Regions from separate parts of the Homo sapiens genome. Here region 2 is linked to region 1. Evidence: fine-mapped expression QTL. A gene starts in region 1. The other region holds a variant in brackets. All regions are shown on one strand. Distances are from middle to middle.

What was found. PIP is the estimated chance that this variant, and not a neighbour inherited with it, causes the effect.
Region 2: its variant is the best candidate, but not a certain one, in a credible set for the expression of MOB1B in aorta (GTEx, PIP 0.51).

What each region holds. Positions count from the first base shown.
Region 1 is chr4:70,899,522-70,904,726 of GRCh38, forward strand. It overlaps MOB1B (MOB kinase activator 1B), which reads left to right and starts at 2,848. Exons shown (of 6, transcript NM_173468.4): 1 at 2,848-3,029. The coding sequence starts at 3,016. LOC124900711 (a long non-coding RNA gene) reads right to left here and starts at 2,710. Exons shown (of 2, transcript XR_007058132.1): 1 at 2,428-2,710; 2 at 1-196. RefSeq lists silencers at 2,668-2,817, 3,128-3,177.
Region 2 is chr4:70,925,410-70,930,614 of GRCh38, forward strand. The region is part of intron 1 of MOB1B (MOB kinase activator 1B); the gene reads left to right. Among named protein-coding and RNA genes, the nearest start is that of MOB1B, 26 kb to the left of the region's middle. The variant C/T (reference allele first, on the strand shown) is at 2,358.

The sequences.
Region 1 (5,205 bases):
TTTGCTTTCTGTTCCTGTGTTAGTTTGCTAAGAATTATGGTTTCCAGCTTCATCCATGTCCCTGCAAAGGACATGAACTAATTCTTTTTTATGGTTGCATAGTATTCCATGGTGTATATGTGCCACATTTTCTTTATCCAGTCTCTCGTTGATGGGCATTTGGGTTGGTTCCAAGTCTTCGCTACGGTAAATAGTGCTGCAATAAACAAACATGTGCATGTGTCTTTATTCAAATGAATATTTAAAGAGCATATGCCCACTCATGTTCTGTTCTATTCTGTACATGTTACAGTATAATTTCAATTCTTTGAAAAGTTGGATAGAACAAAAATTTTAATAATCTTGCTTCATAAACAAAAGGTTATTAGATTTTGGTCAGAAGAGATGATAATTATAAATATCTATTTGAATATAAACTCTCTTTGATTCTGAAATTCCCAATGTTTTTGATATGCTGAATAATTTTATATGACAGACATCATTTGATTTAAAGTCTAACCTGGAATCATATTGTATATTATTAACCTGACACCTCCCTCACATTTAGGACCAGTATATTTACGTTTTATTGGATGTTAATTCCAGGCAACTCTCCTAGTGGTATGATAAAGAAATACTCAGAAGGTATTTTTGCAGATTCTTTCCTCTGCCAGTTTTCCCTTATTCAGTGTCACAGGATACATCTAAATTATGTCAGACCAAAACTAAGGCTACCTAAGCCAAATCAGGGAGCAGTTTGGAAATGTGTGCCAGTCATTTGAAGGATGCCCCTGGCAGGAGAGAACTTTAGAACTGGAAGATATTTTAGAGATCATGTAATGATAGAAGGCTCCCATTTTAAATGGGCTAAAACTGAGGCTATGACAGGTCAACTCACTCTTTCCAAAGATAATCAGTAATCTGGTAATGCAAGTCTTACTTTCAGAAGACCCTTACAAGAATCATACAGGGCTGGGCGTGGTGGCTCACGCCTGTAATTCCAGCATATTGGGAGGCCAAGGCAGGCAGATCACGAGGTCAGGAGTTTGAGACCAGCCTGGCCAACATAGTAAAACCCCGTCTCTACTAAAAATTCAAAAATTAGCCAGGTGTGGTGGCACAGGCCTGTAATCCCAGCTACTTAGGAGGCTGAGGCAGAATTGTTTGAACCCAGGAGGCAGAAGTTGCAGTGAGCCTAGTCCAGAAGTTGCACCACTGGACTCCAGCCTGGGTGACAGAGTGAGACTCCGTCTCAAAAAAAAAAAAAAAAAAAAGAATTATACAGTAAGTCAGTACCATATCAATATTTGGAGCACAGGGTTTTATACCATAAATCTATTATTTTCATTCAGATAAATCCTCCTCTTTCTTCTTTTTGGGGAATCTTTTAAAAAATTTTTAATTTAATTTGAAGTTCCAGGATACATGTGCAGGACGTGCAGGTTTGTTACATAGGTAAACGTGTGTGCCATGGTGGTGTGCTGAACCTATCAACTTATCACCTAGGTATTAAGCTCTGCATGCATTAGCTATTTATCCTGATCTGGTAATCTTTTGAGTCTGTAAGTTTTCTCATTCCAGTAACCTCTGCTGTTCCTGAGATAGTGCAAGATTCTAGTATTTTCTTCTATTAAAAAATTTTTTTTTTGAGACGGAGTCTAACTCTGTCACCCAGGCTGGAGTGTAGTGGCATGATCTTGGCTCACTGCAACCTCTGCTTCCTGGGTTGGAGCAATTCTCCTGCCTCAGCCTCCCGAGTAGCTGGGATTACAAGTGTGTGCCACCATGCCCGGCTAATTTTTGTATTTTTAGTAGAGACGGGGTTTGGCCATGGTCTTGAACTTTGGCTGGTCTTGAACTCCTGACCTCAGGTGATCCACCCACCTCGGCCTCCCAGAGTGCTGGGATTACAGGCATGAGCCACTGCGCCCGGCCTAAAACGTTTTTTTTTTTTTTTTTTTTTTTTTTTTTTTTTTTTTTTACCACTTTACCAACGTGCCAAATAATAGTGCATATATGCAGTATAATACATTTCATATCTGCACCTACTTCAAAGTGTATTCTGCCCTTTGGGATAAGCCAAAGGTGAGCTAATATCTGCACATGATTTGTTTTGCTCAGATTCTCTTTGAAAACTTGTAGATTTGATGGGTGTTGTGAGTAAAGAAGACGGACATCTCTTCGATACCCGTATTTCCCTCCTAAATTGGTAATGCTGTGGTGACATATTCAAGGTATGTGAAGGATTCTTAAACAGAATATAAAGGCTTGCCCTGGGCCCCATAACCCTGTGAGAATAAAAGTCCCTTTGTAAGTGGGTCTGAATAGCTTCTAGCTTCTAGGATGTTCTGTGCATTAGAATGCTTACAAGCTTTGGCCCCCTAAGTGGTTACACCGATGACCACCCTATCATGCTGGGTTCCGTGGTGAACTGAGAGATGCCATTACCTTTCACCGCCCTTGGCCGGACACTCACGGTGGGCCTAACTCCGGTGGTAATTCCATCCCTCACTGCGGGACCTTGACATCCCCGAGCTGAAGCCCACTTCCTCCCTGACCTCTGGAGCCCAGCTGAGCGGCTCCGAGAGCTCTGCCATGACTCCTAACCGGGTGGACAGGGGGGCCGGGCAGCCGCGGCGCACACGCTGGGCGTCGTCCCTAGCAGCAGAGGAGACCAGAAGGTGAGAGTCCCCATGCCGCAGCCGGAGGGCCGGGGTGGGCTTGCACCGCTATCGCGAGAGCTCGTGAGGTGGGGGCGGCGGGGAGCTGGGGAGGGGCTCGCGGAGAGCCTGCCCCGCCTCCCTTTCCTTCCCCTCCCCTGGAGTGATTCAAGACGAGCGCTACCCACTTCCGCCCCCTCCCCCTGCCATTGGAACTAGCTGAGCCGAACTAGTTGCGGCCACCGAGCAGCCGGCTCTCGGCACCTCCTCCTCCGCCTCCCTGTCTCCTGTTCCATTCGCCTTTCCTCTTCTTTCCTGGCCCACGCCGCTCCGAGGCCTCGCGACCGCCGAGCCTGCAGCCTGCCCCGCGGCCAACATGAGCTTCTTGTTGTGAGTAGCCAGGCCCCGCACGCGCCGGCTTTGTTCGGGTGGACCTGGGCCCCCGCCCGCCGCCCGCCGCCCGTCGCCCGCCCTCGTCCCGACCCTCCTGGCCCAGCGCTCCCGGGGCCCGGCGTCACCACCAAGCGGGGCCCCGGGACTGCGCGGAGCGCTCGGACTACCTAACCGCCGCCTCCCCATAGGGCTTCGAGTACTCGTGGGCTCCTGCAGCCCTGAGGAGGTTCTTCCCCCCCGGCACACCCCGGGGCCAGCGCCTGGATTCCTTCATCACCCCCGTCTCTGCCTTCGCTCGCATTCCCGGGCTTGTTTGTGCGCTTCTCGTGGGTATCTCCCACTCGCCTGCACAATCCGTATCCAAGCGGTGCTCGGTTGAATGGCTCCGTCGCGGCTGCCCATTGCTCTTTTCTGGGTCCCAAGCACAGAAGATAAGACTGTCGTACTTTCCCCTGTCATCCCAGGACCCTTTTAACTTCCTCTCTCGTCTTAGGGCTGGGAAGTTGGGATGACAAGTTCTGTAGATGTAACACTGAAACAAGGCTACTTGCGGGTCGGGATCCCTTGGACACAGACGGGGGTCCCTGAGAAAGGGGTCTGGAGCCGCCCCCTTGCTTCCTAGAGGCGCCCTTCCTCCCAGAGGACTTCCCTGAAGAGGATGAGTTTTATCTTTTTAGACAACCAGCAAATAGGTTTTGGATAGTGTGCCCTGCCTAGGTTGATTAGGTCCACTGGGGAGTTGTTTTGAAAATCATTTGTAAATGCCAACTTTGGCGTCATGTTTAGTGCTGGTCATTATTTCACTTACTTATCGTTTGTTCCAGACGAGTGGAGGGGAACGTGGAGGGGGAAGGGCAGAAGGATGGGATGGCCAGATGTGGATATGGAGGCAGTAGATAAGCCTCAGGTCCTCTGAAAACAGGGGTTACAGCCTGAGGAATAACTCCTTTGAAGGCTTCGTTGTGATGCACTCATTCCATGTTTAGTCTGTGTTTAGAAAACTAATAAAAAACTTAGAAGTTGAAACTCACCCATATACTGTTTTACTGTTGTGGAGAAATTAGCATTTAAAGGATATTTTCTTAAGATTTCTCTTCTTTCCTTGCCTAATAATTTTTAGTCATTACATTGACGTCTGAATACTGAGAATTTAATTCACTCTTATTTTCACATGCTCACATCTAGAATTTTTTTTTTTAGGGTGTTTAAGCAAAACTGAACAAGGCTGACCTAGGGGCAGACTTGATATTTCCAATATGCATAGGGGACCTGGCTTGTGTCAACTTGCCTAAAACCTTTAAACGGAAAGGGATTTCTTAGGCTCCTCCTAGAAGTTGATTCTGAGTTTGTCGGATTGGCATAGGGCTAGATGACAGGACTGGGTGATTTTATAAAAAAGTCCTTGTTTCTTATTTTAGTTCTTTTTTTTTTTTTTTTTTTTTTTTGAGACGGAGTCTCCGCTCTGTCACCAGGCTGGAGTGTGTAGTGGCGTGATCTCGGCTCACTGCAACCTCTGCCTCCCGGGTTCAAGCGATTCTCCTGCCTCAGCCTCCTGAGTAGCTGGGACTACAGGCCCGCGCCACCACGCCTGGCTAATTTTTGTATTTTTAATAGAGATGGGGGTTTCACCATGTTGGCCAGGCTGGTCTCGAACTCCTGATTTCAAGTGATCTGCCTGCCTTGATCTCCCAAAGTGCTGGGATTACAGACGTGAGCCCACCGTGCCTGGGCAGTTTCTTGTTTTAGTTCTAATCACCATATTCAGGTATCTCAACTTGAAGCTTCTCATCTTGAGCTTAATTTTACATTGCTAATGTTTGATTGTTTTCAAGAATTTAGAAGCTGTATTCAAAATAGCACTGTAGATGATATCCATGACTACTGCTGATGGGCTTGTGTCTAGTAAGCTAAATTGGTTAAAGCAAGGCCAGTCGCGGTGGCTCATGCCTGTAATCCCAGCACTTTGGGAGGCCAAGACAGGCAGATCACCAGGTCAGGAGTTCGAGATCAGCCTGGCCAATATGGTGAAACCCCGTCTCTACTAAAAATACAAAAATTAGCTGGGCAAGGTGGCACGCACCTGTAGTCCCAGCTACTTGGGAGGCTGAGACGGGAGTATCACTTGAACCCGGGAGGTAGAGGTTGAAGTGAGACGAGATCGCGCCACTGCACT
Region 2 (5,205 bases), 26 kb after region 1:
TTAGTGATGTCTTTGCCTTTTTTGATATCACTTAACATTAAGGAAGAAAAATACCACTGTCATTTTATGTAGCAGAAGAAAAACTGCTCTTGGTCCTCTGGTGACAGAAAGTACTCTCAGGATTGAGAGGATCAGTGTCTCTACATAACCATAATCCTTGAGAAGTTTGCTGTAGACTCTCAAAGTGTGGATCTTTGGCACCACCTAGGAGTATGTTTGAAATGCAGGATTTCGGGTCCTAATCATTGGATTATAATGCATTTTAATAAGATCCCTAGGTGATTTGAAAGCACCTTCCAAAGTGGATGCCTGTATATTTAATTTAAATGGTTTGAGATAAGGTGAATAAGAAAAATCCTTGGATTCAATATAACACCAGTTCTGTCTTTGAGAGATTCCCAATAAGGGAGCCTCAATGTAGATCCCCGTACTGTCCTTTCACACTTGCAATTATTTTCTTGTTTAATGTGTTTTTTTCTCCTTCTGGATTCTAAGTTTTCTCCTCCTGGACTGAGGGTTTGTTCATCATTTTATTTCCCAGCACATTAGGACATTGCTTAGCAAATATGTTTTCAATAATTTTCTTATTTGTGTGAGTGACAGGATCTCACTCTGTCACCGAAGCTGGAATGCAGTGGTATCTTCTCAGCTCACTGCAACCTCAACCTCCTGGGCTCGTGATTCTTCCACCTCAGCTTCCTGAGTAGCCGGGACTTTAGGTGTGTGCCACCATGCCTGGATAATTTTTGTATCTTTTGTAGAGACAGGGTTTTGCCATGTTGTCCAGGTGGTCTTGAACTCCTGGGCTCAAGCAGTCCGTCCACCTTGGCCTCCCAAGTGCTGGGATTACAGCCATTTTTTTTTTTTTTTTAATTAACTGAAGATTGTCATGGGAGAGAACAGTGGCCTATGAGTGAGGAAATCCGAGATTCAGAGTCTTTGGTCTGTCACTAGCTATGTGACCTTGGGCAGATGACTTAATTTCTTAGTTTCTATTTCCTCTGCCTACTGGAGGGTAACGAATGCTTCTTCCATTGGGTTAATGTGAGACTTGAATGACAGAATGTATATGAAAGCTTTTCATAAACCAGAGTCCTGTATAAACACTGTCATTATCTCCACTCATGAAATTCCCAAGCCCAGTGTATAAACTGTTTGTGCATTCCAGTTTTTTGTTTAGCTGTCTTACAAATGTATGGCATTATTGCATAATAAAATGAACATTTATTGAACACCTCCTGTGTGTAAAAGCGAAGTGTTAGGTGCTTGCTGGTGGTGGGAGGAGAAAGGAAGGGGTTTAGAAATAAACAAGATGTGCCGGGCGCAGTGGCTCACGCCTGTAATCCCAGCATTTTGGGAGGTGGATCATGAGGTCAGGAGATCGAGACCATCCTGGCTAACACGGTGAAACCCCGTCTCTACTAAAAATACAAAAAAATTAGCCGGGCGTGGTGGTGGGCGCCTGTAGTCCCATCTACTTGGGAGGCTGAGGCAGGAGAATGGCGCAAACTCAGGAGGTGGAGCTTACAGTGAGCCGAGATTGTGACACTGCACTCCGGCCTGGGCAACAGAGCAAGACTCCGTCTCAAAAAAGAAAAAAAAAAAAAGAAATAAGATGCGGTCTCTGTCCTCAAGAATCTTAGCACTGGAGACCAGCGTGTTACATAGATGTGCTCCTTAATGGTTGTTTTAAACTCTCAGTTCCAAGTCCACTGGCTAATGATGGTTAAAGACCCTTGCACTGCAAGATATTGCATTGAGTATACAAACTTTCTTGGGTGTATGTGTGAAATAATTGCAGTCTGTGTTCATCAAAAATTAGGAATATAAAGAAAAAAATTGCTGTCAGCCAGGCGCAGTGGCTCATGCCTGTAATCCCAGCACTTTGGGAGGCTAAGGTGGGCAGATCATCTGAGATCAGGAGTTCGAGACCAGCCTGGCCAACATGATGAAACCCCCGTCTCTACTAAAAATACAATAATTAGCCAGGCATGGTGGCACTCGCCTGTAATCCCAGCTACTTGGGAGGCTGAGGCAGGAGAATCGCTTGAACCTGGGAGGCGGAGGTTGCAGTGAGCTGAGATCATGCCACTGTACCCCAGCCTGGGCAACAGAGTGAGAATCTGTCTCAAAAAAAAAAAAATTGCCGTCAATACCACAGTTATAAATATGTGTAGTGCATTCACCTATTCAAAACAGCAAGAATTTTGCCGAATTGAGCTTCCGGTTTTTAGTCAGATGCTGTTTTTATTGTGTGGATGCGGGGGCCTCCCCTGCTTGTTCTTGGCATTGCTGCCACTGCTGTTCCACTTTAGCATCTTGGTTTTTAACATGGAGGGGAAGTGGTAGGAATCCTT[C/T]GGTGCACTCGCTTCCTGTAGTTCACTTGGGCATTTCAGGTAGATATTGGAATGGGCTGGAAGTGGTCTGCAAAACTCCAAGGCATAGAAGGCCTCCCTGAGATGTTTGCTTACCACTCCAGCCTCATCCGTGCCTTCCTGCTCTAACATCCCTCCCCCACAGTGTTCAGTGATTTTATTTGCATTTCTCTCAACCTGCTTTGCTCCATCTTTCTGCCTTTGTAAATGCCGTTCCTGTTATTCTGGCTGTTATTCTTCTCCTCCCCACCCCCATTTCTTTAGCTCAGGAGCCAACTTTTTCCCTGGCCTGTGCCCCCTTCCCAGTTTGTTAGATACCATTTCAGTGCCCTTTATAGTCCTTATCATAGTCCTTTCCAAAAAGACATTGTACTCCACCCACTGTCATGTGTATGATCTCTTTGAAGATGGGGCATTTTCAAAAAATGTTTGTTTTAAATCTCTACCACCTAGCATAGTGCCTCTTAGTAACAATTTTTTTTCCTGACTAATCAATGACATTTTCAAGAATTTTGTTTTTTTTTTTTTTGAGATGGAGTCTTGCTGTGTCACCTAGGCTGGAATGCAGTAGTGTGATCTCGGCCCACTGCACCCTCTGCCTCCCGGGTTCAAGCGATTCTCCTGCTTCAGCCTCTTGAGTAGCTGGGATTACAGGCGCGTGCCACCATGCCCGGCTAATTTTTTGTATTTTTAGTAGAGATGGAGTTTCACCATGTTGTTCAGGCTGGTCTCGAACTCTTGACCTCGTGATCCACCGCCTCAGCCTCCCAAAGTGCTGGAATTACAGGTATGAGCCACCACACGTGGCCTGACATTTTCAAGAATTTCATCACGGGTGGTGAGAGTATGAGTGATTCTCCTCAGTCTGTTGTATGTTTTTCCATTGTAAAGATTTTAGGGAAAATATTAAAAGGTGGCTACTGTGCACAGAAGAGTTTAGAATACCTATTTATTGGATTTTTATAATAAAAAAACTTTTTTTTAATAGACACGGGGTCTTGCTATGTTACCTAGGCTTGTCTTGAACTCCTAGGTTCAAGTGATCCTCCCACCTTGGCCTCCCAAAATGCCGATATTACTGGCGTGAGCCCCTGCACTCAGCCTTATTTATTGTATCTTTATCACATAGTTTTGTAGAGACCTTCTTTACAGGATTGTCATATACCAGGCACAAGTTTCCTATTTTCCAATGTGCCCTGTAAATTGTGTTCCCTCTACCAGGGAATGAGAGTGCTCATTTCCCTGCATTCCCACTATCATTGCATCATTAAGAAAAAGAGTCATGAAAGCTTCTTGGACTTTTAAAATTAATGCCAAATAAACAAGATAATAGTAAAGGTACTTCCAAATAATTTCTGTCCCCTGTATTTCTTTTCTTCTTTTTCTTTTCTTTCTTTCTTTTTTTTTTTTTTTTTTGAGACAATCTTGCTGTCACCCAGGCTGGAGTGCAGTGGCGTGATCTTGGCCCACTGCAAGCTCCACCTCCCAGGTTCAAGTGTTTCTCCTGCATTAGCCTCCCAAGTAACTGGGATTACAAGTGTGTGCCACCACGCCCGGCTAATTTTTGTGTTCTTAGTAGACAAGGGATTTTCCCATGTTGGCCAGGCTGATCTCCAACTCCTGACCTCAAGTGATCTGCCCACCTTGGCCTCCCGAAGGATTACAGGTGTGAGCCACTGCATCTGGCCAATTTAATTTTATTATTTTATTTTTGGAGATAAGGTCTTGCTCTGTGGCTGAGTCTGTAGCACAGTGGCCCAACAACTGCTTATTGTGGCCTCCACCTCCTGGGCTCAGATGATCCTCTTACCTCAGCCTCCTGAGTAGCTGGGACCACAGGTACACGTCACCACACCAAGCTAATTTTTTTTTTTTTTTTGAGATGGAGTCTCACTCTGTCGCCCAGGCTGGAGTGCAGTGGCGCGATCTTGGCTCACTGCAAGCTCCGCCTCCTGGGTTTACGCCATTCTCCTGCCTCAGCCTCCCGAGTAGCTGGGACTACAGGCACCCGCCACTGCGCCCAGCTAATTTTTTGTATTTTTAGTAGAGACGGGGTTTCGCCGTGGTCTCGATCTCCTGACCTTGTGATCCGCCCGCCTCGGCCTCCCTTAATACAGCCACTGCGCCCAGCCTTAATTTTTAAAATTTTTTGTAGAGACAGCGTCTCCCTATGTTGCCCAGGGTGGTCTTGAAGTCCTGGGCTTGAGCAATTCACCCGTCTCAGCCTCCCAAAGTGTTGGAATTACAGGCATGAGCCACCGTGCCTGGCCAGAATGAAGTTTTAAAATTTAAAATTTAGATTTAAAATGAAGTTTTAACAATTTACTAGAAAAATAATGCTTTTTTCGAAATTAGCATATAGTATAGTCTATAAGGGTGGATTTCACAAACTGAGATATTTAACTCAGTGTATATCTTGTTTCTTAGTTTTTTTTTGATATTTTACTACAGGCAATAAACTGATAATTTAGTGTACATAAACATGTTTGGGAGGCAGATGGCATATGTGGAGCTCTAAAAATAACTAAATTCTGGGGGTAGATTTAAAGTTACTTTTCACTTACTTCTCTTAATTCTTTTATTGCTTTTCTCATGGAGTCTGTTAGAAAGCTATGCCAGGGTTTTTAGTTTCTGATTATTTCAGGATGAAGAGTTTTTTTCTTTTAGTAACTCTTTCCCCAAAGTATGAGTAAACAGTCGTGTCCAATTGCTAGTGCATGTGAAGAATATGCTTTTATGGCATGCTTGTTATTTTTGAGTATTTACAAGTTGAACTATTAAGAGTAATTTATATGTTACAACAACTCAGAACACTCTACCTTTTTTTATT